Linked DNA regions of Homo sapiens. The protein of the gene in region 2 interacts with the protein of the main gene of each other region in a biochemical or structural test. Each region holds a gene or a part of one and is shown on either strand. Other genes may lie near its edges.

Evidence for each region.
Region 1: the proteins of PDLIM2 (region 2) and PARD3B interact in a test that uses a peptide from one of them, tested with the Homo sapiens proteins (one large-scale study listed by IntAct).
Region 3: the proteins of PDLIM2 (region 2) and HTRA4 interact in a test that uses a peptide from one of them, tested with the Homo sapiens proteins (one large-scale study listed by IntAct).
Region 4: the proteins of PDLIM2 (region 2) and ASIC3 interact in a test that uses a peptide from one of them, tested with the Homo sapiens proteins (one large-scale study listed by IntAct).
Region 5: the proteins of PDLIM2 (region 2) and DLG1 interact in a test that uses a peptide from one of them, tested with the Homo sapiens proteins (one large-scale study listed by IntAct).
Region 6: the proteins of PDLIM2 (region 2) and RADIL interact in a test that uses a peptide from one of them, tested with the Homo sapiens proteins (one large-scale study listed by IntAct).
Region 7: the proteins of PDLIM2 (region 2) and CASK interact in a test that uses a peptide from one of them, tested with the Homo sapiens proteins (one large-scale study listed by IntAct).

The regions. Positions count from the first base shown.
Region 1 is NC_000002.12:205,300,578-205,304,788, reverse strand, and holds part of PARD3B (partitioning defective 3 homolog B), read right to left. Parts: coding exon 4,053-4,211; intron 3,326-4,052; coding exon 3,088-3,325; intron 1-3,087. UniProt on the Homo sapiens protein: Putative adapter protein involved in asymmetrical cell division and cell polarization processes. May play a role in the formation of epithelial tight junctions.
Region 2 is NC_000008.11:22,590,323-22,593,195, reverse strand, and holds part of PDLIM2 (PDZ and LIM domain protein 2), read right to left. Parts: intron 1,646-2,873; coding exon 1,528-1,645; intron 1-1,527. UniProt on the Homo sapiens protein: Probable adapter protein located at the actin cytoskeleton that promotes cell attachment. Necessary for the migratory capacity of epithelial cells. Overexpression enhances cell adhesion to collagen and fibronectin and suppresses anchorage independent growth.
Region 3 is NC_000008.11:38,976,750-38,980,960, reverse strand, and holds part of HTRA4 (serine protease HTRA4 precursor), read right to left. Parts: intron 3,009-4,211; coding exon 2,814-3,008; intron 1,747-2,813; coding exon 1,714-1,746; intron 1,003-1,713; coding exon of another isoform or gene 970-1,002; exon of another isoform or gene 476-969; intron 1-475. UniProt on the Homo sapiens protein: Serine protease.
Region 4 is NC_000007.14:151,046,522-151,051,330, reverse strand, and holds the start of ASIC3 (acid-sensing ion channel 3), read right to left. Parts: upstream 2,801-4,809; 5' UTR 2,446-2,800; coding exon 1,912-2,445; intron 1,226-1,911; coding exon 1,075-1,225; intron 851-1,074; coding exon 723-850; intron 574-722; coding exon 378-573; intron 293-377; coding exon 236-292; intron 160-235; coding exon 12-159; intron 1-11. UniProt on the Homo sapiens protein: Forms pH-gated heterotrimeric sodium channels that act as postsynaptic excitatory receptors in the nervous system. Upon extracellular acidification, these channels generate a biphasic current with a fast inactivating and a slow sustained phase.
Region 5 is NC_000003.12:197,137,974-197,142,184, reverse strand, and holds part of DLG1 (disks large homolog 1), read left to right. Parts: intron 1-1,920; coding exon 1,921-2,045; intron 2,046-3,793; coding exon 3,794-3,963; intron 3,964-4,211. UniProt on the Homo sapiens protein: Essential multidomain scaffolding protein required for normal development. Recruits channels, receptors and signaling molecules to discrete plasma membrane domains in polarized cells.
Region 6 is NC_000007.14:4,873,224-4,877,434, forward strand, and holds part of RADIL (ras-associating and dilute domain-containing protein), read right to left. Parts: intron 1-4,211. UniProt on the Homo sapiens protein: Downstream effector of Rap required for cell adhesion and migration of neural crest precursors during development.
Region 7 is NC_000023.11:41,916,838-41,921,048, reverse strand, and holds part of CASK (peripheral plasma membrane protein CASK), read left to right. Parts: intron 1-4,211. UniProt on the Homo sapiens protein: Multidomain scaffolding Mg(2+)-independent protein kinase that catalyzes the phosphotransfer from ATP to proteins such as NRXN1, and plays a role in synaptic transmembrane protein anchoring and ion channel trafficking.

The DNA.
Region 1 (4,211 bases), on a different chromosome or scaffold from region 2:
TTTTTTCCTTTTTTTATGGAAATGGGTTTTTGCCATGTTGTTCAGGCTTGTCTTATAACTCCTGGGCTCAAGTGATTTGCCCATCTCAGCCTCTCAAAGTGCTGGGATTACATGCCTGAGCCACTATGCCTAGCTGAATTTTTTTTTTTTTTTGAGATGGAGTTTTGCTCTTGTTGCCCAGGCGGGAGTACAATGGTGCAATCTTGGCTCACCACAACCTCTGCCTCCCAGGTTCAAGCGATTCTCCTGTCTCAGCCTCCCGAGTAGCTGGGATTATAGGCATGCACCACCACGCCCGGCTAATTTTGTATTTTTAGTAGAGAAGGGGTTTCTCCATGTTAGTCAAGCTGGTCTCGAACTCCTGACCTCAGGTGATCCGCCCGTCTTGGCCTCCCAAAGTGCTGGGATTACAGGCTTGGGCCACTATGCCTGGCCAAAATTTTGTTTTTTAATATTCAGATAGCTATTATGACATCAGGCCTGCTGGGGTAACCTCACCCCAGGTGATAGCAGGACCGCAGCAAGTCTTGTCATAACACATCCAGGGGCAACATCGCTCCCAAGATTTTGAGCATGAGGAACCTTGCTTAGCATTTCATGAGCACTGGAAATGTAACGGGAAGGCTCACTGCTAAGAGGATTATTTGTATTCCCTAAATGTCACTTATATATGGAATGATGGAACTTTCTTTTCTATGTAGAAATTTCAGCTGATGATCACAAAATGAGAACAATTGGTAATAAATACACGCAGCATTCTTAAATGAGGTATCTCCTAAGGGTTTCATAAGAGGTGGCCAAACTGGCCCCTAAACCATCATCTCCCATCATTCACCTTCAGCCCACAGAAGTATAGTGATCAATTGATTTGAGAAGAAATTATAGGAGTAAAGACAGTAATAGAAAGGGGTACTTCTGCCTGTAACACCCAACAAAATAAGTGAGGGGGCTACAAGTAAACCCCTTAGGGAATTTGGAGGTAATTGTATAATAGGAGATTGTCACCCCACTTCCTACCTGTTTATTTTGTGACTTGCAAAAATTGACTGCCTCCTCCCTTCCCCATGCATGACAGCATTCTTGGGAGAGTCTGATGTGTGCTTCTGGAGTGAGGAGGCCCAGAGCTGGTGTGGGATGTGCTGGAGAAGTCTGAAGATGCAAGGCTGGTTGGAACATCTCTATGGTGGGGTGAGGAGGAGCGGTACAGTGGGAACAAGCTGTACTTGCATCATTTGGAGGGTGGGAGATCAGGAACTCTAATAAGCCAGGTAGATGCTGTGGCTGTAAGTTAAGCTAGAGCTGTCTCAAACTGGCACTGTCCAAGAAGTCTACCAGCCGGGGTAAGGAGACTCAGGGGTATATGTCTGAGGTCAGAGGCTTAGGGAAATAGGTCAGTGGGAAAATCACCTACATTAGTGACTGGTATAGTAAGGAGCACTCTAAAAAATCCACAAAAGTAGCCACAAAGATTCCTTGATGGCCAGATTATACCAGATAATGCCAGTTAAGTAAAATCCTATCCTATTGAATCTTGTCTTTGTCTCCTGGTTCCAAAGACTGAGAAATAGGAGAAGGTGGAATCCTGCCTCCCACCATACCATAGGATGCTCCTTGTGGTTCAGGTCCAACAGGCAGAAAGGAAGAAAGCTTTCATTTATATTGGATTGCATATTTTAGCCCCCGACAAACAAGTTGCTTTTTTTTTTACCCAAAAGTGACCAGAAAGCTATCAGCCAGAAAGCTGAGATGTCAGGGTGTGGAAGAGGCAGCCTCAACAGTTTATACTTGAAGGGGAGAGAAGAAACAAAGCTGTTTTCTGACTGTGCCATGTTGAGCCCCGTCTAGTCAATGAATGTATAGCATATGAAATCATATCTCACAACTGTGCTGGGTCAGTAGAGCAAGTATGCTGGCCTCATTTTAAAAGTAAGGAAAGTAAGGCTCAGGGAAGCTAAGCAATGTGTGTGAAGCCCCATTGCTCATGTGTGGGGAGTCATGGATCCAGACTTGGGCATCAGAGCCCAGACCCAGTGACATCTCCCCTGTACCACAGTGCCTCTGGAGGTGACAAGTGATGTGCCCAGAGGCCCGGCCACTGCACACCTAGAGTCACAGAGGGATGAGGTTCATCTACCCTGACTCCCCTGCTTCAAAAGAGGTATTCCAGAGGTAACACATAGGGCTTCCCCACTTCCCACTTTCCCTGTGGTGTCAGAGGAAGTATTTATTTTCATAACACTTTGGTACAAAGGACTGCAGGCATTGTCCATGCCTCTACTAAGTATTGGCCTTTCTTTTATGGTGTAATCATAGCTCACTGCAGCCTTGAACTACTGGGATCAAGCCATGCTCTGGCCTCAGCCTCCTGAGTACTTGGGATTACAGGTATGCACCACTGTGCCTGGCTAATTTTTTTTTTCTTAGAAATAGGGTCTCCTGCCTGAAACCCCAGCACTTTGGGAGGCCAAGGCAGACAAGGCAGATCACTTGAGGTCAGGAGTTCAAGACTCCTGGCCCACATGGCGAAACTCCACTCTACTAAAAATACAAAAATGAGCTGGGCGTTGTGGTGCATGCCTATAGTCTCAGCTACTAGGGAGGCTAAGGCAGAAGAATCGCTTGAACCCAGGAGGCGGAGGTTGCAGTGAGCCGAGATCACGCCACTGCACTCCAGCCTGGGCGACAAAGCGCGACTGTCTCAAAAAAAAAAAAAAAAAAAAAAAGAAAAGAAAAAAGAAAAAAAGAATAGGGTCTCCCTACCTTGCCCAGGCTGGTCTTGAACTCTTGGGCTCAAGCAATCCTCCCAGCCTCCCAAAGTACTGAGATTACAGGCATGAGCCACCGTGCCTGGCATAGTGTTGACCTTTCTTTGACAACAAACTTAAGACAGTGTCCTGTCATCACTGTAACTTTCCCCAAAAAGCTCCTCTGCCTCTGCAGAAAGAGAACGAGCACAGAATTGAGAGCCGTATGCATTTGGCTGAAGACGAGGAAAAGCGTGCGCTTTTTTCTGAGTACAGACAAAGGAGTGATTTTACCAGGAGAGACAAAATGAGAACCAACTTTGCCTTCAAAGCAGGCCCATACCTCAGCATGGCGCCGAAGCCCTTCTTCTTTATTTTCCTTTCTGGATCTTCATTCTCCTCTTTGCGCTTTTTCTCCTTGACTTTCAATTTGCCCTTTTCCTTTTTCTTCTCCTTCTCTTTCGTTTTTTTGACTTTCCTGGCTTTATTTTCCATGTCCTCTAGCTCCGAATTCCCCTGAGGGGCAGACTCACAATTCAGAGCTCCTTGGCCAGAGTGAGAGCTCTTATCAGACAGACCGTCTGTACAGAGAAAAAATAATCAATACCCATGGTCAGGGGCACACTCAGTTAGTATACAGAGAAACGCTAACATGTAAAATGCAAAAGAATGAATAACAGCACTCTGTAGTTCTACCCTTCTATGTGGTTACGTGCGCCCTTTGAAGATCTGACTGCCTAAATCTGGTTACTTCGAGCAAGACTTGATGCTGGGAGTGGGGACAACCGGTTGCTTAGCTGGTAGTATGAAAGGCTTGATATGTGTTCAAGCACTAATCTCTCTGAAAGCTGCCTTGTTAACCTTGATCAGCTCAGAAAGCCTGCATGCTGGGAAACAAACAGGGTGAGAAGAGAGTTTTGAGTACAAAATATCCCAACTGCTTCTACCCAATTAATGCAGTCGGAGTCCTTGGATTGATGCTGCCTCTAATGACTCGAATGAGAATGTCAAGAAATGCATACTTAGTGCTCCTACCCTAAGGGTAAATGACAGTTGGTCCTTGTAGAAAAGTGAAGGAGAACATTTATTTAGCCTTGCACTGTAAAATAAATTGCATATTGTGTTCTCCAATTCCATGTTCATTAAGCCAAAGGGCAAAACATATCAGGAAAATGAATTACTTTTAATATCAAAAATATAATTGTGATCCTTAAATCATTTTTTTCTGTAGTTGAGCACACATTCTTGCCCATGATTTGCAGATAATAATGAGATGAAGAAGCCATTTAAGGAAGCATATCATCCTACCAGCTTCTATTTCTTCAGGTCCATCGTAGGATTTGTCAATGGCTGCTCTAAAGCTCTCATTGCAGCCTCGGCCTCGAACCATGTGCGGCCGGGGCCTGTGAAAGGGAAGGTCATTCTTCCTGACCTCGGCCACTGCAGTCTGCAGACTCTCCAAGGAGC
Region 2 (2,873 bases):
TTAAAAATAATAAAAATAAATAAGTCAGCCAGGCACAGTAGCTCACGCCTGTAATCCATGCCTAGGATCCCAGGTGGACAGATCACTTAAGGCCAGGAGTTTGAAACCAAACTGGGCAACATAGCAAGACCCCATCTCTACAAAAAATTTAAAAATTAGCCAGGTATGGTGGCACACGCCTGTAGTCCCAGCTACTCAGGAGGCTGAGATGGGAGGATCACTTGAGCCCAGGAGTTTGGGGCTGCAGTGAGCCATGACGGCACTACTGCGCTCCTGCCTGAGCAACAGAGTGAAACTCTATTAAAAATATTAAAAATTTTTTTTAAAAGTTGTTCCTCTCACATAAAGACTGTAAGTCCGTCCCACATTGCCTGGATTTTTAACAGAGCAGTGATTCTCAGTGTGGTCCTGGGTCCCACAGCCAGCAGCATCCGCATCACTGGGGAATTCGTGAGAAATGCACATTCTCAGGCCTGTTGGCCTCCTGGAGAGGAGGCTCTGGGGTGGGGCCCAGCCATCGGCATTTAACAAACCCTCCAAGGGACCCGACACACACACCTTTGAGAACCAGGATGGAAAACATGCTTTTTCAACACACATTCCCTATCTCTGCACAGCAGGGGGACTGGATATTCTCCCACTCTGCAGATGAAAACACTAAAGCCCAGAGAGGTTAAGGGATTTGCCTAAAGTCAATCACCTGCCCCTCCCACACTACACACTTCAGAAATTTACCTGAGGGGGGGTTTCAGCAACCTTCCAGAGAATGTGGTTGCATTATAAATGCCACTTAATGAGAAAAATGAGCCCACCTCGGCTGGGCATGGTGGCTCACGCTGTAATCCCAGCACTTTGGGAGGCCGAGGCAGGCGGATCACCTAAGGTCAAGAGTTTGAGACCAGCCTGGCCAACATGGGGAAAACGCGTCTCTACTAAAAATACAAAAATTAGCTGGGAGTGGTGGCGGGAGCCTGTAGCCCCAACAACTCGGGAGGCTGAGACACGAGAATAGCGTGAACCTGGGAGGCAGAGCTTGCAGTGAGCTGAAATTGCACCACTGCACTCCTGCCTGGGCAACAGAATGAGACTCCGTCTCAAAAAAAAAAAAAAAAAAAAAAGAAAAGAAAGAAAGAAAAGAAAAGAAAAATAAGAAAAATGAGCCCACATCGGGAAAAATGCAGCCTGCTCCAAAGGGGGAAGAAGGGGAAAGAGCAAGATTTTCCAAGAGGATGTGCTGTACCTCCGGGCAGATCTCCAGAGGCTTTGAAATGATCAAAGAGAAATCAAAAGGGATGGGAAAAGGAGGAGAGGGAGAGGAGATGCAGCCGGAAGCAGCTAGCCTAGGCTCCTAAGAAGCCTGTAACTAATGCCCCCAAAGCTGTGCAACACTGCTTCCCCTAGAGTCCCCGACTGGGTACCCAGTGCTAGCCCCTGATGGGCCCGGCCCTTCCTGAAAGCATCCAGTGCCCTGTCCCCCTCCCCACTCCCCTGTGAAGGCTCAGGTCCCCCACCCCCCTCCACACTCACGCGATGCTGGTACTGCACTTCTCACAAGTGTGGAGCTTGGGAGGGGTGGCCAGGGCCCTGGAGGCGGGCAGGGAGGACTGGGGGCTCAGTGAGCTGGGCAAGAAGGCTGGCGTGCCACCTGGGGGCAGGGCAGACAGACATGTGGTGAGAGCCCACCAACCACAGCATCCTCCCAAAGATGCTCTGAGGAGGTGGTCTTGGAAAGCACCCTTATAAGAGAAACCCTAAAGTCACGCTGACAGTGGCACCAGGTAAGGAGGAAGGTGATCTTGCCAGATCCATGGCTGAGGCTGGGCAAGGGCATGAAGGAGGCAGGTACAAGGCCGAGTTTGCCCATCCAAGGCCACCTGGGGCCATCTGTGCTCAGTGTCAGGTGAAGCAGGTGCTCCCTCTCTAATGACCTGGTAATAACAGTGTGATTAGATAATAACTGGAGATGGCAACAGGAGCGCAATGCCTCGGTGTGGCTTTCAAAGTGCTTTTCCATGCCTTGTCACATCTGAGCTCTCAAGCCACACGAAGATGAAGCCCAGGGCTACGGGGCAGCTGTCGCCCGTCTGCAGCTAAGGACGCTGAGGCCTCCTTGGCAAAGTCACTGCTCTCTCCCTGTGCTGCCTCCTGGGACCTTCTGAGGCCTCAGGGTCAAAACAGACCAGATTTGCTCCAAACCTTCTCACCCCACCCCCTGTGCCTCTGCAAATGCCCCTTGGAGCTAAACATCAGCGTTAGAACCAGCCACCTGCCAATCTCCAGGTGTGCCCTGTCCATATGGCCTCTTACATTTGCTCCCAAAATGGAAATCTCACCTTCAACCTCACAGTTGTTCCTGGAGGCCAGTTTCCAGCCTGCATCTCTGTACTCCCCACTCCCCTGCTCCCTTTCCATTGCCACCCCAATGGGACTCAACTGAGGTCCAGGAGCCCACACCAGCCACTGGGAAGGAGAGCCTTGGAGACAGCCAGGCGGGCCAGTGCCCAGGGCCAGGGGCACCATTTCCTGGGAAACCAGCTTCTCTCCATTTTAAAATTCAAAGTCATAGATGAATTATGAAGCCTCTCTGGCCACTCTCCTACCTGTCCTGTCATCTCCCTCCCCTTCTCCCCACTGTTCTAGAGGGCATTGGTGCTGAGCACCTTAAGGACAGGGGCTGTGGGAGTAGTAACTCCCACAGCAGCGCTCACTTCCATGGGAGCTGGCCAGGCCCATCTGCCCCAATGAACGGAGCTCCCCAAGGGCAGGAGTGGGGTCATGGCCACCTATCCCCAAACTCTGCACACATCTGGTCCCTCAGATGGGCACAGTCAGTGTCTGTCACATGAATAACGGAACTCTGGCAAGCCTCCGTA
Region 3 (4,211 bases), about 16 Mb from region 2:
TTATTTAAAAGTAAAAATAAACATGGAAAAGGTAAAAAGCTGTGGGATTGTCAGTAACACTGCACTGAGAATTAGCAAAATTGACCTTAGGGAACAAAGCTCTGCTAAGCTAAAGGTATGAGGTAGAAAATATTTTCCTCTTTATGTACCTCATCTTCCTTTAGCCTTTTAGGTAATGGGAAAGGATAAAAAAGAGATTTCTTTTTTTTTTTCTTTTCTTTTTGAGACGGAGTCTCACTGTGTTGCCCAGGCTGGAGTGCATTGGTGCAACCTTGGCTCATTGCAACCTCTGCCTCCCGGGTTCAAGCGATTCTCCTGCCTCAGCCTCCCAAGTAGCTGGGATTACAGGCGCATGCCACCATGCCCAGTTAATTTTTTTTTTTTTTTGTATGTTAGGTAGAGATGGGGTTTCACCATGTTGGCCAGGCTGGTTTTGAACTCCTGACCTCAGGTGATCCACCCACCTCAGACTCCCAAAGTGCTGGGATTACAGGAGTGAGCCACCGTACCCAGCCAGAAAAGAGATTTCTGATTGTGTTAAACTACAGATTGTAATTCAGTAGGTCGGGGGTATGGCCTGAAATTCTGCATTTCATCCCTGCTCTAGTAAACTCATTGTCTAATGGAGAAGGCAGGAACAAAACAAAGAAAAATGACATGCAATGCTATGAGTAAAAAAAAAAAAACAATCATTTTGCATAAAATTCATTCTAAAAGCAAATGTAATATTTAAACAGGAACCAAAAGCAATCAGTGCAAAGGGACTCAGAAAGGATGATCACATGCTATGTGTCAAACAGCATTGCACTCTCTTAGGTTTTCACATGTATTTGGGCAACTAGAAACCCTGACATTTCCACTAGAGACACGGAATACAATTTAAGAATACATGACACGGCAATGTATTTGAGAGGCCAAGGCAGGCAGCTCACTTGAAGTCAGGAGTGCTGGTTGTGGCTTTTCTCTCATCTATAAGCAGGTCAAGAGGTCAAGACTAAAAACCTGGACAGATGACATTATGTAATTAGCATTTTTAAATGAGAGATAGTTCTTCATATGCAGCATCAAGGAGTCTTCAAGGACCTACATTTCATAGCAAAGCTGGTCATTTGGCATAAACCTGGGTTTAATATCCAGGGCTTTTGGCACAGCATGGTGGCTCATGCCTGTAATCCTAACACTTTGGGAGGCCAAGGCAGGAGGATCACTTGAACTCAGGAGTTTGAGACCAGCCTGGGCAACATAGTGAGACATCGTCTCTATTAAATAAATAAATAAATAAATAAAATCCAGGGCTTTGGGTAACTAGCCAATGAAAACAGAAAGCACGGGGAAGAGAGAAATTTCAAAGGAAGCCGGAGCTAGAACCCTAGTGTTCTCAGTGGGATGAGATCACACACCAGGATAACAATCTTGAATTTTTTCTAACTATTGACTTAAGGTCCAAGAACAGAAAAGCACCATTCCACAGCTCTCTACACAAGAGTGGCACCCAAGTCTGCATCATGGAATATGTAAAGTCCTTTTTTGTTTTTGTTTTTGTAGATATGGTGTCTTGCTGTCTTGCCCAGGCTAGTCTCAAACTCCTGGCCCCAAGCAGTCATCCCAAATGTGCTGGGATTACAGGCATGAGCCACCACCCCTGGCCTGGAATTAATAAAGTCTTTGAAAGTTAAGAAGAAACATGAAGCAACAAGGAAAGTGATCACTTACCAAGTTCACCAGAGGACCACCAGAATTCCCATACTAAAAGCAGAATTTGAAAAAGACATCAGTGAAGCTAATGAATACATTCCCCCTTGTCCTTTACACATAGCTCCCAAAACAGTTTACCAAAAGCAGCCCACCAAGCTCCTATTCCCCCCAGGCCGGCAAAATTGTGCCCCTATCATCACCAATACCAAAGTCAGTGTAGGTAAAGAACTATAGCAGTGGGACCACCACCTTCATTTTTTTTTTTTTTTTTTGAGACGGAGTCTTACTCTGTTGCCCAGGCTGGAATGCAATGGCGCAATCTCGACTCACTGCAACCTCTGCCTCCCGGTTCAAGTGATTCTCCTGCCTCAGCCTGCTGAGTAGCTGGGATTACAGGCACCCGCCACCATGCCCAGCTAATTTTTGTATTTTTAGTAGAGACAGGGTTTCATCATGTTGGCCAGACTGGTCTCGAATGCCTGACCTCATGATCCACCCCCTTCGGCCTCCCAAAGTGCTGGGATTACAGGCATGAGCCACCGTGCCTGGCCAAGGGACCACCACCTTCTTACAGGAGGGGTGACCTCTACAACAGACCACCTAATAGCATGGATGCCAGCGATCACAGCGAACGAGACAGACTCTAACAAAGTGGCATTCCATTCCTCCCACAGTGATTCAACCAAACCTGGACATCCCCAAAGTTCACTCTGACATATTCTTCTCACTGAACTGCCAATATTGTGTGATCTGAGGAAAGGCCTCCTAAGTCAGCAATCCCCAAACTTTTTGGCACAGGGACCGGCTTTGTGGAAGACAATTTTTCCACAGACGGAGGGGTGGTTTGGGATGAAACTGCTCCACCTCAGATCATCGGGCATGAGTTAGATTCTATAAGGAACATGCAATCCAGATCCCTTGCATGCGCAGTTCACAATAGGGTTTGCACTCCTATGAGAATTTAATGCCGCCACTGATCTGACAGGAGGTGGAACTCGGGCAGTCATTCTCACTCGCCCATGGCTCACAGCCTGCTGTGCGGCCCAGTTCCTAACAGGCCATGGACCTGTACTGGTCCACAGCCCATGGGTTGGGCACCTCTGTCCTAAGTGACTTACATTAATTGTGGCATCAATCTGGACGTAGTCCATATCTGAATCCTTCATCCCCAGTTCTTTGCCCCCTCGCTGTTTGGTGCTGACAATTCCTGCAGTAGCTGTGTTCTGCAGAGAAAATGGGCTGCCCAAAGCCACCACAAACTCTCCAGCCCGAAGGTCAGATGATCTTCCCAGCATCAGTACAGGAAGTTCAGCCTGCACGTGCCCAAAAAGGGATGGGGAGGACAGAAAGGGTAAAGAACAAATCACGATCAGAATTGACCAAAGTGTGTGTCTAACACATATATGACGCTGTCTCTATCACCTTGGCCCTTACCACCTGAGAAGCACCCACTCACACAGCTTCTATGATTGCCTTCTACTTCTTCCTCAAAGTCCAACTACCATGAAGCTCTTGAGTGTTAAGATGACTAGGATCATTTCTAAGATCTAAAACAATTACTTTGTAGAAATTACTATTAGTAAACAGCCAGTGAAGTCACTGATGAACATAAACTGACATTAGGAATTTACACAGCACCATTCCAGCTCAAAGCTTAACAGTCAAAGTGAATAAGCCACAAACAGAAAGGAGATCACCCAGGGTGACACTTCTCACACTGTAATGTGCATGCAAATCACCTAGGGATGTTATGTTAATGCAGATTCTGAGTCAGCACATCTATCTGGGTAAAGGCTGAGACTCTGAACTTCTAAAAAGCTCTCAGACACCATGTCAATATATGTGATGTGCAGACTACCAGTACTATGTGTAGGAAGGACTTCAAAGTATTCCTTAGCAACTTTGAGTCCATCGCAGTAATTTCTGATATCCTAAGACAAGTAGAGAAATAATTTTCCCTGAAGCAGCATTTGTTGAAGGAGGAAAAAAAAAAAAAAAAGACTGCTTGATAGTTAATAGAAACAGTTAGAGGCCAAGCGCAGTGGCTCACACCTGTAATCCCAGCACTTTGGGAGGCCGAAGCGGGCGGATCACTTGAGGTCAGGAGTTCGAGACCAGCCTGGCCAACATGGTAAAACCCAGTCTCTACTAAAAGTACAAAAATTAGCCAGGCGTGGTGGCAGGCACCTGTAATCCCAGGTACTCAGGAAGCTGAGGCAGGAGAATCACTTGAACCCAGGAGGCAGAGGTTGCAGTGAGCTGAGATTGAGCCACTGTACTCCAGCCTGGGTGACAGAGGGAGACTGTTTCAAAAAAAAAGAAAGAAAAGAAAGAAACGGTTAGGGATATACAGAAAGGCGTTGAAGCAAATAAATAAAAGAGGGAGTAAAGAACAGAAAGAAACCAGAGAAAAGCATATATTCAACAGAAAAGATGTGGTGTGAGAGTGTAGTGGGGCAGAAAATATCAGCAAATAGATAAAAATCCCCAAATATGTAGACTCTGACTCAGCCCTG
Region 4 (4,809 bases), on a different chromosome or scaffold from region 2:
GCGCAGCTCACGCGATGTAGGCCTCGCTGCGGTTGAGCTTCCGGGCCAGGAAGCGCGCGGCGGCGCGGCTCGGGATCCGCACCATGGAGAGCTCCTTGGCGTAGCGCGTGCTGGCGCACGGGTTGGGGCAGGCGCACGAGTCCTTGCGAAGCATGGCATCTGCGGGCCACCGGGCCGCGTCAGACGCCCGCGGGCGGAGCGGGGCGGACGGGAGGTGGGGGAGGCTCGCCCTTACCTATGGCCGGGTGGGCACAGTTCTTGTACTGCTGGGGGCTGCACACTGGCACGTCGCCTGCGGGTACCGGGGAGATGGCTTTAGAAGCAGCCTCAGCTCCCTGGGCCCTGCCCGCCATGGGACGAAAACCCCAGCCCCTCACCTGGCATGTACACCATTCGGCAGCCGCACTTCCGAGCCACGTAGCGGGTTTCGCAGGCCAGGCGACACCCCATAAGGGTATAGGGAGGGCTGGGGCTGGGGCTGGGGGAGCCTAGGGGATCAGAGGGCTCTGGCTCATAGTTGGGGTTCAGAGATGCTGAACTGCAATCGCCCCAGGGCGGTGGCAGGAAGCTCAGCTGTGGGGGGACAGGGTTAAGGAGGCTTCCCGGAGAGCGTGAGAGGCCAGCTGGGGAGAGGCCCCTAGACAGGTCTGAGGAGCTGAGGGTTTAGGGTCTGAGGTGGTGTGGGCTTGAAGTAGTAGGTGTGGAGGCACACGGAAGGGTACCTGCTGCTGCTGGCAAGAAACAAAGGTCTGGTAGCCCGGGGACACCCCCAAGCCCAGCTGATCGATGATGGGCGGCTCCTCCTGGCTGTGGATCTGCACTCGGATCCCCACCTCAAACGGGGTCTCCTCTGTCGGGGAGGGACCTGTGAGGCCTGACCTGTGTGGTCAGGTCTCCTGCCCAACCAGACAAGACCTCTCACTGCAGCCCCTCTCCCCAGGACTGGGATGAGCCAGCCCAGCCCCTTTCACAGGTTCTGGGGGAACACCCTGACACCTCCTCTCCTCCTCTCCTTCCCCTAGCCTTTTGCACTCCATCCGTGCCCTCCCCCAGCCTCATTTGTGTGCTCCCTACCATTGTCCCTCCACACAGGTAGATATTCCTCCTGCTGCACGTCCAGCATGATGTCCAGCCCATTGCCCATGCCACCCCTAGTAGTGGTGAGCAGCTCTGCCCCATCAGCGCCAGAGTTAAATGTGTAGCACTTTCCCATCCGGGTGAAGATCTGGGGCGGGCAGACAGGGTGATGGCCATCTCCCCCAGGCAGGCACATGGTCATGGGACCTCTCCCCACCTCATGGTATGTTTGCGTCTCTTCTTTGAATACTGAAGCCCGCATCTCAATGCCCCCAGCCCCACGCTCCAGTGGGCACATGTTGCAGGACGCTCTTGGGAGCCCATCAACTCAGCTCCTCCACCCCGCCAATCCCCACCAAAGCCCAGGGCACAGCCTACAGGTTTTTCTGTGTTTCTCTGGGAACTGCAGGAAAAGGAAATGGGCCCCTGTGGCTGTCCTCCGGGGCTGGCAGTATGTTGAAAAGGCAGAGGGAAAGCAAGCCCCCCCCACCTCCTGGCAGAGATAGGGGTCTTCTGCCCCAGAATGGTCCCACCATGGAGGACCCCCAGCCCCAGGAGCAGGGCCTCCCTGGGCCAGACCTCAGGCCTAGGGCCAGCCGGGGTCAGTGTGGCCTCACATGCTCCCCTCGGGCTGGGAGACAGAGAAAGCCCCAAGGAGGACAGCTTCCTGGGCTGCACGGAGTGGCACTGGGGGGTGGGGAGTCCATGGCTGGTAGGAAGGAAGAGGTCCCCTGGCTTTGGGGGAGCCTGTGCTGGCTAGGGAATTGTGGGTGCTGGGCAGGGACTGGTCGGCTCTCTGGGTCCCTGGCAGGATAGGTAGGGAGGTCAGCTCACCGTGGTGAAGTTCTCAGGCCCACAAGGTTGGCCACGGAAGCGACAGTCCAGCAGCATGTCATCCAGGGAGTGCCCAGCACGGGCATAGAGTTGCGCCATGTCAAAGGTGGGACTGGGCATGAAGCCGGGCGGTGCAGGGGGCCGGCCCAGGGCGCGCAGGAAGGCGGCGTGCTCTGCGGGATCCAGGCCCAGCAGCGCAGACCCAGCCCAGTGCAGGTCGTTGGGCGTTAGGCGCGAGCGGCGCAGTGGGTTGATGTTGCACAGGGTGACAGCCGGGAAGATGAGCCGGTGGCTTTCTCGCTCATCCAGGGCAGTCTGGTGGTGGAACTCCCTGTAGTAGCGCACCCTCTCAGCCACCTGGTAGAGGAAGGTGGCCACTGACAGGACCACGGCCGCTGCCCACATCCCCCGGCGCAGGCTCAGGCTGCCTGGCCCGAAGACGTGGCCCAGCCCGTGCATCGAGCAGTTGCTGGCGAACACGCGGATGTCCGAGGCTGGCCGCCGGGCCTCCTCTGGGCCTGAGGTGGGCTTCATGGCCAGAACCCAGGAGCGGAACCAGCTACAGAGGCTTGGAAGAAGCGAGAGAGAGTCAGTCAGGGGGCTAAGGAGGCTAAGATAGGATTCAGGAGGCCAGGCAAGGAGAGGAGAAGAGAGGGTGGGAGACAGCCAAGGTTGGAAGGCAGGGAGGCACTAGCCTGGCAGGATTGGAGGAGGTGATCTGGCCGGTCAGGTCCCACTGTTCCTTCCCGAGGAACAGGCGGTGGCTCCACTGGGCTAGGCACTGGGCTGGGGACTCCGCAGCAGACCAGGTGGGACGTAGCTGACCGTGGCAGGCAGGGGCTGCGGAGCGGTGCTGAGCCGGCGGTGCTGAGCCGGCGCTGCTGCAGAGGATTGGGTTTCAGCAGTAGGGGGGAAAGGGGGCCGACAGAGCAGTCTGGGGGGTAGGAGAGGTCCCTAGGGCCCCAGGCTGAGCCATTAGTGCAGCATGGAGGGGGGCATGGCTGTCCAAGACGAGAGGCGCCAGGAGGAAACCGCAGTAATCCTAGGGAGAGCTTGAGAAAAGCCCAGAGGTAGATTGGGCCTGGAGATGCCTTGGGGCCCCCTAGGCTCCCAGTTGCAACCCCTGTACACTGGCCGCGAGGGTCAGTCGCTGACCCCTGGCCTAGCTCCTCTCTCCTTTTGCCTCTGCGGCCTTCCCTCTAGCTTCACCCAGGATCTGTTCCTTCACGAATACCAGAGCTGGCTCTTGGCCAAGCTGGGAAATGGTTGGAAGGCTGGCATCAGCAGATCTCTTCTTTCTGTGCCCCTAGCATCTCAGCCTACACTGGATGGCCAGGGCACTCTTCATGTCCCACTTCCAGGGCCCGTCTGTTTCCTAAGTGTCCCTCTCTCCCTAGGGAGTCAAAGCCTACCTCCCCACACTCAGGCCTCTGAGGATGTTGGCCTCTACAATGGTTATGGGCTCACCTGCCACCCCAGGTAGAACATGGGTGCCCCACCTGCCACCCTCCCGGGTACCACGGGTACCCCACCTGCCATCTCAGGCACAACATGGGTATTCTGTGATTTCCCATCTTACGCTGCTATATCCAGGACCTGGAAAACCTACATTTTTCCAAAGGGCTGCATACCACCCATTATGTGCACATACCATAGTTTATTTAATGACTCCCCCACTGATGGGCACTGGGGGTGTCCAGTCTTTCCATTACAAACAATGTTGCCGTATCATCACACAGATGTGAACTCCCAGGACTTTGGTGGGCTTTTTTTGACCATGAGTGGTAGAAACATGGTTCCACCAGCCAAACGTGTGCACACACCATGCTGCAACTGCTGGGCCACCTGTCTGTCCTCCCAACAGGACACAAGCTTCATGGGGGCAGGGACTGTCCTCATTCCCCATCGTGGGCTCAATGGCACATGACAGGTGCTTGATTAATAAACACTTTGGAAGGACTGAGTACCATGGTTACAGCACAGGCGTACCAGCTCCCCAGAGCCACAGTGCCATGCTTTGCAAGTATTTACTGTAGATGATCCCACTCACACTCTCAAAACAGGCATTCAGCATCAAGCACAGCTAGGCTCCCACTCTCCACTGTGGAGCGAAGGCCGAGGCGAGGTTAGGAAGACGGCGCGGCTCCTGCGGTCTAGCTCTTCCAGCTGGACTAGCCAAGGGGTTTCACTGCTTCTCTAGGGGGCGGGTGAAGGGCTGGATTTAAAGAAGCCGCCCAGAAGATATAAATCTGGTGTCAGAGGCATTTTGGGCAGCCTGAGGCTGATGACTGAGTGGGTGAAGCAGGAACCACCTTGGCTGGCTGCCTGGTGAGGGAGGGGTCAGGCCAACAAGCAGGGCCCCAGCAGGGCTTGTGGACTTGCCAGCTGAGGCCCTACTCTGGGCTGCCCTAAGGAGGGGTTTAGCTGTGAACCAGCCCCAGGCTCTGCTCCTGGACCTCCACTGCTTAAAGACACAGCCTCTGATCTGTCAGGAAGTGGGATATCAAATCAGGGTGGATGTGGGCCTGGGGTTTTTGGATGGCTTGTCCCCAAAGCACCATCTAGTTCTAAACCACACCCACAAGAGCCCGTGGGTCCCACTCTGGCTCCTGCACGCAAACTTGAGCCACTGCTGCCTCTTCCAGGCTGGCCTCCCAGCAGCACCAGCTGCTCCATCAATGCACTGTATCACACCCCTGAAAGAGGGTACCACCCTTCTTTACACAGGGTAAATCCAGAATGCTTGCCTGGCTGTGAAGGTGCATTGCAGGTACCACCTCTTCTCCTGCCCAGGGGAACAGGGCACCGTGTAGTCCCACAGCCTGGATGTGGCTGGATAGGGGAAGGATCCCAGTAGGAAGTGACAGCGGCACCAACATGGGGAGGGCTGATGCATCT
Region 5 (4,211 bases), on a different chromosome or scaffold from region 2:
TTAAGTAAGTAGTATACTAGTAACATGGTCATTATATCAATTTTCTTTTCTAGCAAAATAACCATACTTCTAACAGACAGAGCTGTATTAAAAACTAATTATGGTATACTTGCCCAATCAGAAAATGACTTGAAGGTGCAATTCAGATGTGCAAATTTTCTTAAGATATGTTTTTCCCTCAAGAATATCTGCACTCACGCCTGTAATCCCAGCACTTTGGGAGGCCGAGGCGGGTGAATCACTTGAGGCCAGAAGTTCAAGACCAGCCTGGCCAACATGGCAAAACTCCGTCTCTACTAAAAATACAAAAATTAGCCAGGTGTGGTAACGCAGACCTGTAATCCCAGCTACTCGAATCAGGAGAATCACTTGAACCCAGGAGTCAGAGGTTGCAGTGAGCCGAGATCGCACTCTAGCCTGGGTGACAGAGTGAGACTCTGTCTAAAAAAAAGAAAAAAGAATATCTGCATTCAGTTTTTATTGTATGTTATAATAGTAATGCCACCTTATCTGGCTAGCATTTTATGGAAATCTAGTGTTTCACACAAGCAGATTTCTTAAGTAACTAAATGTGTGTATACTCAAGACTGAAATCCTAGATAATTAGATTTATTTATATTGGAATAGAATCTGAGAAAAATAAATCTGAGAGAGTCTCTTACATGTATATCTTTATTGCCATCTACTTAAATTCGGATCACTTGCTCAAGTTGGGTGGCTACTGGAGTAATATTCAAGTAAGCACAGTATTAATGTACTGTACATACTTTAATATAGTAGTTTGTGATGTCTCCTAACTTTTTATATTATTGATTTTTTATCTTTTCCCAGGGCCTTTTAAATTCCTTTTGTTTAGTTAGGACTATACATTGTATTTTTCACTGGTTGAAGAACTTGAGTACCTAAGTAATTTGGTAACCTCCCATAATCCACTGGTACTGTTCTTAAGATTCAGGTAATTCATGAAGTTAGATTGAAAAACATTTTTTTATTAAAATAGAATTTTAAGACAAATGGTGGTAGAGTGGGTGTTTACACTGTTTAATACTAACAGTTAAATGATAGGTCCACATATATTTGCTTACTTGAGTTGCCTGAAATTCAGTTAGAACATTCTTCAAGAAATAAACATTTTTTAATACCATTGGTTAAATCAATTATTTTTAAAGGCTTTTTGTAGCAGTCGAACCCTTTCTGTGAAGAACATATTCAGAAATCTTGTTTCTCCAGTTCATAAAACAAGCAAAAAGTAGAGCTGCTTTGGCAAAATTTACTTTGCTGTCAAGAAAATTCACCAATGTTAAGTTCTCAGGTTGGTCTTTCAGTCAGTGTGAAACAATGCCTTTTGCTAATCGGGTATATTGGTTAAACATGTCAGGGACTGATGGCAGCTATCACTTAGCAGCCACAATTTGGTCATTTAAAAATAAGCTGATGTCAAGTTAGCAGAAGAAAAGCACCATCGCCACCCCCTTTTTTAAAGGCTAAAACAGTATATGGGTTTTGCCTACTCAGAAATAACAGCGGGAAGATCACTTCAGCATTTGTCTCTTAGGAGAGATGTGCCCTACCAAACATGGCTGAGGTGCAGTCTAAAAGAAACAGACTTACAGTGACACCTCTGCAGATGGGTGACTAATCCAACGACAAGTTGCACATACTTTTAAAGAAAGAACTGTGGAGTATACTTCAAAAGTCCTTGGTGTATTTTCTTGAACCTCACCTGTTCAGCAGTAATGCCTCTGAAAGGACTTTCCTCCAGAACAAGTCCATTTAATTTAGAATCTTTATATTACTCACCCATATACCTTTATTTGTTGTGTTCCTTATGTTAGTACAGTTTCTGCGTCCTTTAATGACAGGAACCTGTCCATAAAGATAAATCATATTCAGTCTCAATTTTTTTTCTTCTATCCTCAGGGAAATTCAGGGCTTGGTTTCAGCATTGCAGGAGGTACGGACAACCCACACATTGGAGATGACTCAAGTATTTTCATTACCAAAATTATCACAGGGGGAGCAGCCGCCCAAGATGGAAGATTGCGGTATGTTTTGCGCTTTTTATTGTGATGCTGAATCCACTTTGTGTATTTTTCTTGAAGCAGACTGGATAAGGGATAAATACAAATAACAAACACGATCATGATAACTAGCATAGGGTAGATGCTTTAACAACATTCAAGTCAATGAATGAGATAATTATGCTCTAAGCATTGTGTTCCTGTTTTCATTTAGACTCCAGTTTTATCTTAGATATTATAACATTTTGAATAACAAATTTGGTTGATGGTTTAAATCTTTGTGAGCATATTTATAGAAATCATGAGTTTCCCTTTGTGTTTTCAGATACACTCACAGAATATTTTCCATTTCCTCTCTGGCTGGGAAACATGTGTATAAACTTATTTAAGTACACTCACAGAATATTTTCCATTTCCTCTCTGGCTGGGAAACATGTATATAAACTTATTTAAGATACGGAGGATAGAGGATCACACATCCATGTTGAATCCCACACCACAAAGACTATATGCAAACTTTAAATAATATATTTTCTTATTGACTAGATGAAAATAACATTTGTCTCTGTTTAAATTTAGTGTTCCATTTTGGAAGATATATTTTGCAAACTTTGATTTTTTGAGGGTCATAAATTATGTCATTTTTCCTATTTCCTTGTTTGTTGTTCAAATACCCTGAAGTTTTAGGACTAAAGAGTTTATGTAGTCTGTTAAAAACAGCATCTTATTTTAAGGACGTTGATGCCTTACGCAGTTTTTGAATTTCTAAGCTTTATAATTCTCACTGGGTATGACAGGTGGTATATTAATGAAATCAAATAGATATAAAAATTAATCATTTGACCATTCATGTAAATGTAGACATTTACTTCCTGATTCTGTTAGATATAGAAGCTTGTCAGGACCAGTTTTAATATTTTAATTATGTTTTGTTTACCCTCTCTACCCAATTTGAGATGACCATCTTTTTTTCCTGGTGGAATACCATGCAATCAAAGAGACCAGAACTAGGGAAAAGGCTAAGACTAGGAACAAATCAGACTTTTAAAAAACATAACACCATGGCAAATTATAAGTTCTTTACCTACGAAACCTTTGAATTAAGTGACCTAATCTTTATATAAATTTCAAAAAATAACTTAATTGTTTTATGTCTAATATATAGGTTGGAATAGGCACTCAGAAAATTATTTTTACTTTATCTCAGTTTTCACACTATCTCTGTGACCTTAAACTCGTGATGTGAGCCTCAGTTTTCTTATCTTTGAATCACAGCTCTGTCACTTATTATCTGGGTGGCCTTAGGAAAGTTATTTACATTCTTTGTGCCTCAGTTTCTCCATCTGTGAAATAGGGATTAAAATATATATTAAGCTTACAGGTGTCATGAGGGTTAAAATACCAAGAAAGTGCCTGGCATGTGGTTAGTGCTAAATAAATGTTTGCTATTTTTATAAAGTGTGTCTTAATGCCTACACAGAATAAGCATGCAGGAAGTATGCAAATGGTAGCTGTAATTATTATTTAACATTTTTATATAATCTATTATTTTCACTATTTCTTTTGTTCCTTTTGCTGGCCCTTGGGAAATGTTTGTATTTGTTTATATTAGTTTTTGATATACTTTCTTCATTTATGTTTTCTGGAATTACTCCAGAATTATTTATAATTCTCTTTACCTTAAAAAAGAAGTAACAAAAAATTGGTAAAGTGGAAAATTTATATTTAAATTATATTTAATTTTTATTTTTAATATTTAATTGTTTTCTCAGGGTCAATGACTGTATATTACGAGTAAATGAAGTAGATGTTCGTGATGTAACACATAGCAAAGCAGTTGAAGCGTTGAAAGAAGCAGGGTCTATTGTACGCTTGTATGTAAAAAGAAGGAAACCAGTGTCAGAAAAAATAATGGAAATAAAGCTCATTAAAGGTCCTAAAGGTATGTGGTAAGTCAAACTAAGATAAATCTTTAAGAAATCTCTGAGTTAAATATACCTATGAACTTTATCTGTGACATACATTCCAAGTACAGTATTAGTAATATTCTACAGAACTTGAGTGGATTTTAATTTCTCCGTTATTTCTACTGATTTTTGTCTTACGTAGCATTTTAGAATATTTACATTTCTACCAAGATTGCAGCATTTGAAAAGTTCCTTTTTTTGCGGGGTTTTTTTGTTTGTTTTT
Region 6 (4,211 bases), on a different chromosome or scaffold from region 2:
CGCCCGGCCAAGTGTGACTCTTACCATAGGAGTAATGGGAAATTATTGAAAAACAGTGTTACAGTGTTGAGCAACCTGGGGCTGGACTCGTTAACACAAACGTACATGGTCACACATGCATGCACACACATGCACACCACACAGACACACACACATGGTCACACGTGCACATCACATCACCACATGCACAGGCCAGGGGTCCCTTCCCTTTCTCGCCACTTTTTCCAGGTGAGATCGAACTGTTATCTCACCAGGGATCAGGGACAGCCCCACGCTGGGTCCTCTTGGGAGAGAATGCAGGAGCTGAAGGGGCCCTGGCGTGCGCTGGACCTCACTGGGCCTGCCCTGCAGGGGCAGATGTGATCCTGCCATCCCGCCGTCCTTTTGAAACTACACCACCCACTTCAGTAGGATTTGTTTCACTGCAGCCCCCCACCTTCCCCCAAAGCGACACGGTGACACATGCCCCACACTGAGGGCCACTCTCAGGACAAACAGACACCACAGCAGCCCCATCGGTGCCCAGGGAGGCGCAGGACAGGCGGGCTGCTGGAAGGCGCAGAGCTCACCATCACCGGAGGTATGTAATGGAGAGGACACGGTGGGTGTTAGGAAAGCCTCCCCACCACGATTCTTCCACGTCACTCCAACCTGAGGCAGGCTGGCGCCCACGGCTGCTGGAGAAGCTGCTACAGTGAAAAACCCCTCGGCTTCCCACCTCCTCCCCTTCTCTGGCTCTCAGTCGTTCCCCTTGGAGGGGCGAGGGAGGAATCGCCTAGTGCCGGCTGCAAACTCACTCAGGGGGACGTGGGACACAGCAAAGGCTCAGTGCCCTCCCCGTTCCGTGCCTCCAAGCCAGCAGGAGAGACCTCTCAGAGGCGGGTTCCAGGGATGTGCACAGAGGCCGCCTCCAACCCACGGAAAGGCCGTGCAGGTGTCTCACGCAGGGAACAGTTCCAAGTGGGAGACTGTGTGTGTGAGCACCTGTGTGGACATTTCTCTGTCCAGGTACCCATGTGTCACCACAACAACCGAACACACTCTAGCGCAAAGCTTCTGGGCGCGGGCCTGTTTGAGGCAGGGCTGTCCAGCTACAGTAAGGTCTGTGCGGGGTCATCCCCAGCGGAGCCTGGCTTATCCACGTGGGGACCCCCTGGGTCTAGCCTTCCCCCGGCTCCAGGCAGAGGCTCAATAACCGTTCTGTAATGAGCAGAAGCATGTGTGCATGCCTCTACCAGCTGCTCCATCTCAAACCACCCGGCCGCCTCAGTGAACCTTCTTGGCATGGCTGAGGGTCACAGGAGTCCCTGGGCCACAGCCAGAGAAGGTCAGCAAGGAAGGATGAGTGCCCGAGGCCCAGGGGGCCAGCTCTGGGTAGGTAACACAACCTGCTCCAGCCCAGATGAGTGTGTCAGTATGGCTGGGCAGCCTGATGGACTCTCTTTGGCAGGTTTCGAAAACCGCCACGAGCTTAGACAGGCTGTGAGCAGGGGTGCTTTCGCTCGCCCTGAATAATTTAACAGGAATGATTCCAAAAGAAGTGCATGAGCTTGGCCGGGTGTGGTGGCTCACACCTGTCATCCCAGCACTTTAGGAGGCCAAGGTGGGCAGATCACCTGAGGTCCGGAGTTCGAGACCAGCCTGGCCAACATGGTGAAACCCCATCTCTACTAAAAATACAAAAATTGGCCGGGCGCGGTGGCTCACGCCTGTAATCCCAGCACTTTGGGAGGCCGAGGCGGGCGGATCACAAGGTCAGGAGATGGAGACCATCCTGGCTAACACGGTGAAACCCCGTGTCTACTAAAAATACAAAAAATTAGCCGGGCGTGGTGGCGGGCGCCTGTAGTCCCAGCTACTCGGGAGGCTGAGGCAGGAGAATGGCGTGAACCCGGGAGGCGGAGCTTGCAGTGAGCCGAGATTGTGCCACTGCACTCCAGCCTGGGCGACAGAGCGAGACTCCATCTCCAACAACAACAACAACAACAACAACAACAACAACAACAACAACAACAAAATTAGCCGGGCGTGGTGGTGGTGCATGCCGTAATCCCAGCTATTCAGGAGGCTGAGGCAGGAGAATCGTTTGAACCTGGGAGGCAGAGGTTGCAGTGAGCTGAGATCATGCCATTGCACTCCAGCCTGGGCGACAGAGAGAGACTCCATCTCAAAAAAAAAAAAAGAAGCACGTGAGCCTCAGACAAGCTCCTGTCTCCTGCAACATGCACTCTGGCCCCACCATCCTACACTGGCAGTCGCCTATCACCTGTGAAGACGGCGGGCCTTCCCAGGGCTCCTCCTCGCCCGGTGACACACAACGCAATGGCCTGAGGACAGGCCAGGCTGATCCCCAGCCACACAGCAGCAACCCTGGCCCGTGCTCTGCAGCCCCAAGGTGGCCCTGTCCCACTCGCTTTTTGCCCGCTGCTTGGCAGAGGCAACGCATGGTGGAAGAATGACCGAAATTCTGTGTCTGACATTGAAGAGCCTTTGTTCCCGTGCAGAAAACATCCCACCATGCGCCTCCTCCCTTTCGGGTTTCCTGGCCTCACAGGAGGTCTTTTTGAATCAGGAGGGGAGGGACCCCATCTCTGCCACCGGATCACCGGTCCTTCCAAGGGACCACTGGATCGTGACATGGCAGGGTCAGGATGAAAACCAAATCCCAGAAGTGGCGACCTCTGGGTGGAGGAAGGATCCCCAGGTGCAGGCAATTGGGGGTGCTTGTCTGAGCAGACTTTAAGAGCCATAATTAAAGCAACCACAAGTTACTCTTTTTATTGTTATTTTTTTGAGACAGGGTCTCACTCTGTTGCCTGGGCTAGAGTGCAGTGGTACAATCCTGGCTGCAGCATCTGCGGCTCAAGCCATCTTCCCACCTCAGCCTCCTGAGGAGCTGGGACCATAGGTATGCACCACCATGCCTGGCTAATTTTTTTATTTTTTGTAGAGATGGGGCCTCACTATGTTACCCAGGCTGCTCTCAAACTCCTAGGCTCAAGCGATCCTCCTACCTTGGCCTCTCAAAGTGTTGAGATTACAGGTGTGAGCCACCACACCCGGCCAAATTTATTTTATTTATTTATTTATATTTGAGACTGAGTTTCGTTCTTGTTGCCCAGGCTGGAGAGCAATGGCATGATCTCGGCTCACTGCAACCTCCGCCTCCCAGGTTCAAGCGATTCTCCTGCCTGAGCCTCCTGAGTAGCTGGGATTACAGGCGCCTGCCACCACGCCCGGCTAATTTTTGTATTTTTAGTAGATACGGGGTTTCACCATGTTGGCCAGGCTGGTCTCCAACTCCTGACCTCAGGTGATCCACCTGCGTTGGCCTCCCAAAGTGCTGGGATTACAGGTGTGAGCCACCGCGCCTGGCCAAAATTATTTTTTATGACACACACCTATTAAGATAATCAACTTCTTTCCACCAATTGAATAAATCACCAGACACAGTGGGCCCCAGGCCCCGGGGCTCTCAAACTCTGCGGCAGGCACTCAACGCCACCCGTGCTCTCGGCACTCCTCAGACCGACAATGATCGGCTGCCCGTGGCCAGGCCCTCCTCAGGAAGGCCTCCCACCACCCAGGCACCCACAGACCCGCGGTACGCTGAGTGCACCGTGGTCACCTCTGGAGACCTTGCAACCCGGCAATGCCACGTAGGTTTTGGCCTGGGACAGATTCCTTGATTGTCTTTTCACTTCATTGCCCCAAAAACTCCCCGACAAGGTCGCAGGTGCTAAAGGACTTGGAGGGACCCTGTATTTAACAAGGCGTGCGTGGTTGCTATGGTCAATGAGATGACTGCTGGAGAGCTGGACAATAATCTGATCAGACAAAAGAACAGATGTGGCCTCAAATATTGCAAGAATATATCAGGAGCCTCTGAGGAACACCAGCCAGCCTCCTGCTGCGTAGACAAACTACAACTTCCCAGACAGCTGAGGTGAAAGTGGTGAGTTTAAGAGGAAACCTTTGGGAGGCCAAAGTAGGAGGATCGCTTGAGGGCAGGAGGTCAAGACTATCCTGGGTATCACAGCGAGACTCCTGTCTCTACAAAAAGTAAAAAATTAGCTGGGTGTGGTGGTGCACCTATAGTCCTAGCTACTCAGGAGGCTGAGGTGGGAGGATCGCTTGAGCCCAGGAGGCTGCAGTGAGCTGTGGTTGCACCACTGCACTCCAGCCTGGGTGACAGAGCAAGACCCTGTCTC
Region 7 (4,211 bases), on a different chromosome or scaffold from region 2:
AGCACAGTTCTAGAGAGAAAAATGCATCAAAAATCTCCTTGGTTTCCTCATTCTTAGGAGCACCCAGTGAAGATAAATTAGGTGTTTCCCAAAAGCCTCCAAATGACTGTATGTGTGGGTGAATGATGTTTGTTGCATCTTAGTTATAGCTGATGTAAATGAACTAACAAAGTCATAATTGGAAAATGTGAGATTAAAATGTTAATTATATTGTGAAGATGTAAAATAGCCATCTCTGAATCAGTTTTGGTAACTAGTTCTGATTCCTTAAAGTCTGGAAGGGTGATGATGTGATCTCTTTGGATATCAAAAAGAAATGGTCAGAATCACATTAACACAGTCCATATTCTGCTGATTTGTAATTGATAGAATATTTTTCAGGAAACACCCCTGGGAGAAAAAAATTCATCTTTTCTGACTGTTTCAGAGCTGCATAAAGAGGGGCAGCAAGCTAATTTTGAGGTGATAGGTACTCTATGGCTACCTTAACTACTATGAACTGTGAAATCTCATTCATATCCTACAAAATCTGACTTGGTCAGTGCCAATTATAAAATGCCATTATGTGAAATAATGAATTCAAGCTAGCCTTATTGTTAAAGAATGTAATAATAGTGTTCCTCAATCTGAGTAAAGGTTGAAGGTTTCTCTAGTAAATTGTCTTAGTATATATTGATCTGGAAATTGAAATTAGCTTGAGATTTTCTTGCAGGGACCTTGACAGCATACATTTTTAACTTATAATTTGTTCACCTCTGAATTTGAACAGAAAGCCCTTGAAGATATTCACATGTACTGAAAACCTTTTTATTGATTTCTATCCAAGTTCTATGGAATTTTGATTTTCTTTTTTACCAAATTAGTATCACAAGTTGTTTTTCACCACTAGATCTTAATAGGTTTTAATTTTTACTAAGGTACTTTAAAATAGATTTCACTTTTCAAGACTAATTGACTACCCACTCACTCCTCTACCTACGCAACCACCTACTCACTCACCCACTGTGTACTTGGCCTTACTTGATGGCATAAATGAAAGTTCTCGTTTAATTTAGACCCTTCAGTGTGTTTTTTTCCCCCTTGGTTGAGAAAGATAACTTACAGAGTTAATGAGGTTTTGAAATATAAGATCATTATTTGGAATATGTTTTCTTTCCAGTGGTTGCAGCCTTTACCCTTGTTAAAGCTGTCTTTGAGGGAACATGTGCCCAATTTGTTACAAATATTGGAAGGATGCCGTTTCCCTTTTTAAAAATTAAAACTCTTTTCCCTGTGTTTCTCATTTTTGAAAATCTTGCAGAAACTCCTTTGAGTGACTGTTGGTTCTATAACATTTTCTATGTAACTATCTTTTAAATGACTGAAACAAATCTCCAATAATAAGACCTTATCATAGTCCCAAAACTTCTTGTCTTAGCAAATGTAGCGATTACTGGAAAGGAAGGGCGTTATGCAAATGAGGTTAATGACTAATTTTTATGTCATGATCATTTACTGTATCTTTTACAATTATAAGTAAGTGTACAACCGGTAATACTACATGAAGGAAATTTAAGACAATTCATCGAAATTAAAACATAGAAAAATGCCTACTTTCTTGGTACAGCAGTGTGTATGAAAGGGAATAACAAAATACATACCATTTTTACCTTGTGTTAGGTGAATACTTGCCCTGTTTAGTAGCCTGTAGCTTCAGACTTTCCTGCTCTGGTAGGACATACACTAAAATTGGAATGATGCAGCATGACCCTTGCTTAAGGATGACGTGCAACTTTGTGAGGCATGCTGTATTTGCTTACTCCTCGAGAGCACTTTTATTTAATTACAGTTACTTATTTATGGATCTCTCTAGTTCACTAATAAGGAGCTTCCTGAGGGCAGGGAATGTTTCTTACACATCTTTCTCCATTAACACAGTGCGTGCAATGTAACTGCCTTTCATTAGCTGTGGAATGAATTGAGTAGTTTTAATAAAATCTCATTAAAAGGCAAAAAAGCATGTTTGTCAACCTCAGAGCAATTATTGTCCGAAGAGCCTGCATTAGTTTAAAGTAGTGGTTCTCCACCTGGCTGCATATTAGAATCATCCGGGGAGCTTTTAAAAAAGATCAACGCCAGAGCCCTGTGTCAAAGCAGTGAAGTCCGAGTTTCTGGGACTGGGTCCTGGTCACTGACATTTTTTTAAAGCTCTCTGTGTGATTCTAATATGCAGCTATAATGAGGAATCATTGGCTTAAAACTTAGATTATGTATGTAATATTTTGGGACTGGCTTTTCAGAGGCTTACAATTCTTACAAAGTAGAATAAATTCTTTTTGGAAGGTATTGAAGCTAAATGGCTAAAACATGGATTTTATCTTCTATGCACTTGTGTTTCTCAGCCTTATTGTGTAAAAATTTAGTTTTAGCTTGTGTTTGGCTTTGATTTCTTGGGCCTTTTAAGATCCACATTGATTTATGACACTCATCTAATGCTAACATGGCGATTGTCTGACGTTTGGAACAACACAGAACAAGGATTGCTTCAATAACAGTTGATGATGGTTTTCCACTATAATGGCTTGATTTAATATGAAGAAATTTATCAGTTTAGTATGGATTGTGTTTGTACATACACTCTATTAAAAGAGTATGGTTAAGTTGCTTGTATGCTTTAAATTACATACTTGTGATTCCAGTAATGCTGTTAGCTGGAGAATTGAGTTAATGCAGCCTTTATGTAAATACTGGATTAATAATACGTAAAGTATATAATTCAGCATACAGAAAAATTCAGCTTTACTAATTTGTACTAATTACTATGACTTTCACATGTATTGATTCATGCAGTGATTTGGGTTTCTAGTACCATAGGGAGAATTTCGCATTGTGTTGAAAAAATGTTTCCCGGAAATTTTAACTAGACTTTGTAGGTAAACTAGTTTTTAATGTTAGGAAAAGATCAAGTGTTTGCCTGAAGGAACCGAGAATTTTCCAGAAATGAGTAGATATTCCAGAAATACCAGTGATCGTGAAAGCAGTGCATGATCACAGTGACAGCCAAGTAACAAGGTAAAAGAAGTGATCAGCAGCTAAATTGTTGGTGGCCCAGAAAGAATGCAAGCCATGGGAGTTAAGCTGTACTTCTACAGAGGAAAATCCTTTTGAACTCAGGGTGTGGATGCTACAGATAGCAGGCCTCAATGGGAGTGGGGAAGCAATATTGATTCCTGATGATCCTAGGATCATTTGGAGGGAGAACAGAGCTACTCCGTTGCTTTTCTGCATGTATACAACCTTCTCTAGTCTCTTCCTGTCTGCTTTTTACAGATTGCTTTAGGGTGTGTTGTTTGAAGTTGTCTTCATAAATACTTCCTGTGGACTCCCTTAATTTTTATGTCCGTAACACGCTTCTATGTACTTGACATACGCAGTTCAGCTCTCTCCATTTTTTCCTTGTATCTGCAACAGTTTCACCTGATGAACTACGTCTCAAGTGTCCCTAAATTGTGTACCTGGATATTTCCTTTAAACTGAAAATTCTGTCTCCAGCTGTAGTTCTACTCAATAAATTGAAGGAGCAGATATACCTTGCTTCTTGAGATTATTCTTGAATTATTACATTTTCTTAAACGTTTTCACATTTTAAATGTGGTAGGAGCACTGCATTTAAAGGAACTTTGACATAAGGTTGTTTAAAAAACTTCTATAACTTAAAGCTTACTTTATAAAGGGATTGACATTTATCCCTCTAATGTTAGGCATTTTGGATGTATTATTTAATCATACCCATTTTACAGAGAACACTGAGATTCAGAGGGGGTGATCAGTAATTCGCCTAAGATCACACAGATTCCAACGCGGTTCCATGGTTTTAAAGTCTGTTCATTTCATGCTGCATTCTGCTGCTAATTCAAGTTGTGAAAATACTGTGTTGGATTTTCTTAAAGACACGTCTTCATTTTCAGAGTTTCTATACTGCAAATTTTAGTTGTTTGACTTTCTGGTTAAATTTCTTATTTCTTCAGTAGAGGTTCCATATACTATTCATTCTTTCATCTGTTTCTTTTTTATTTTTGTCTTTCTCTTTAATGAAACATCAGCATTTGTTACCAAACTAACTGGTAAATCTAGCAATGGAAATATAGACTCTTGGCCATCTGTCCAAAATATAATTTGTTTTGGAACTTTCTCTACTTCTTTTACTCTCCAAATTTTTTCTTCCATTTCCC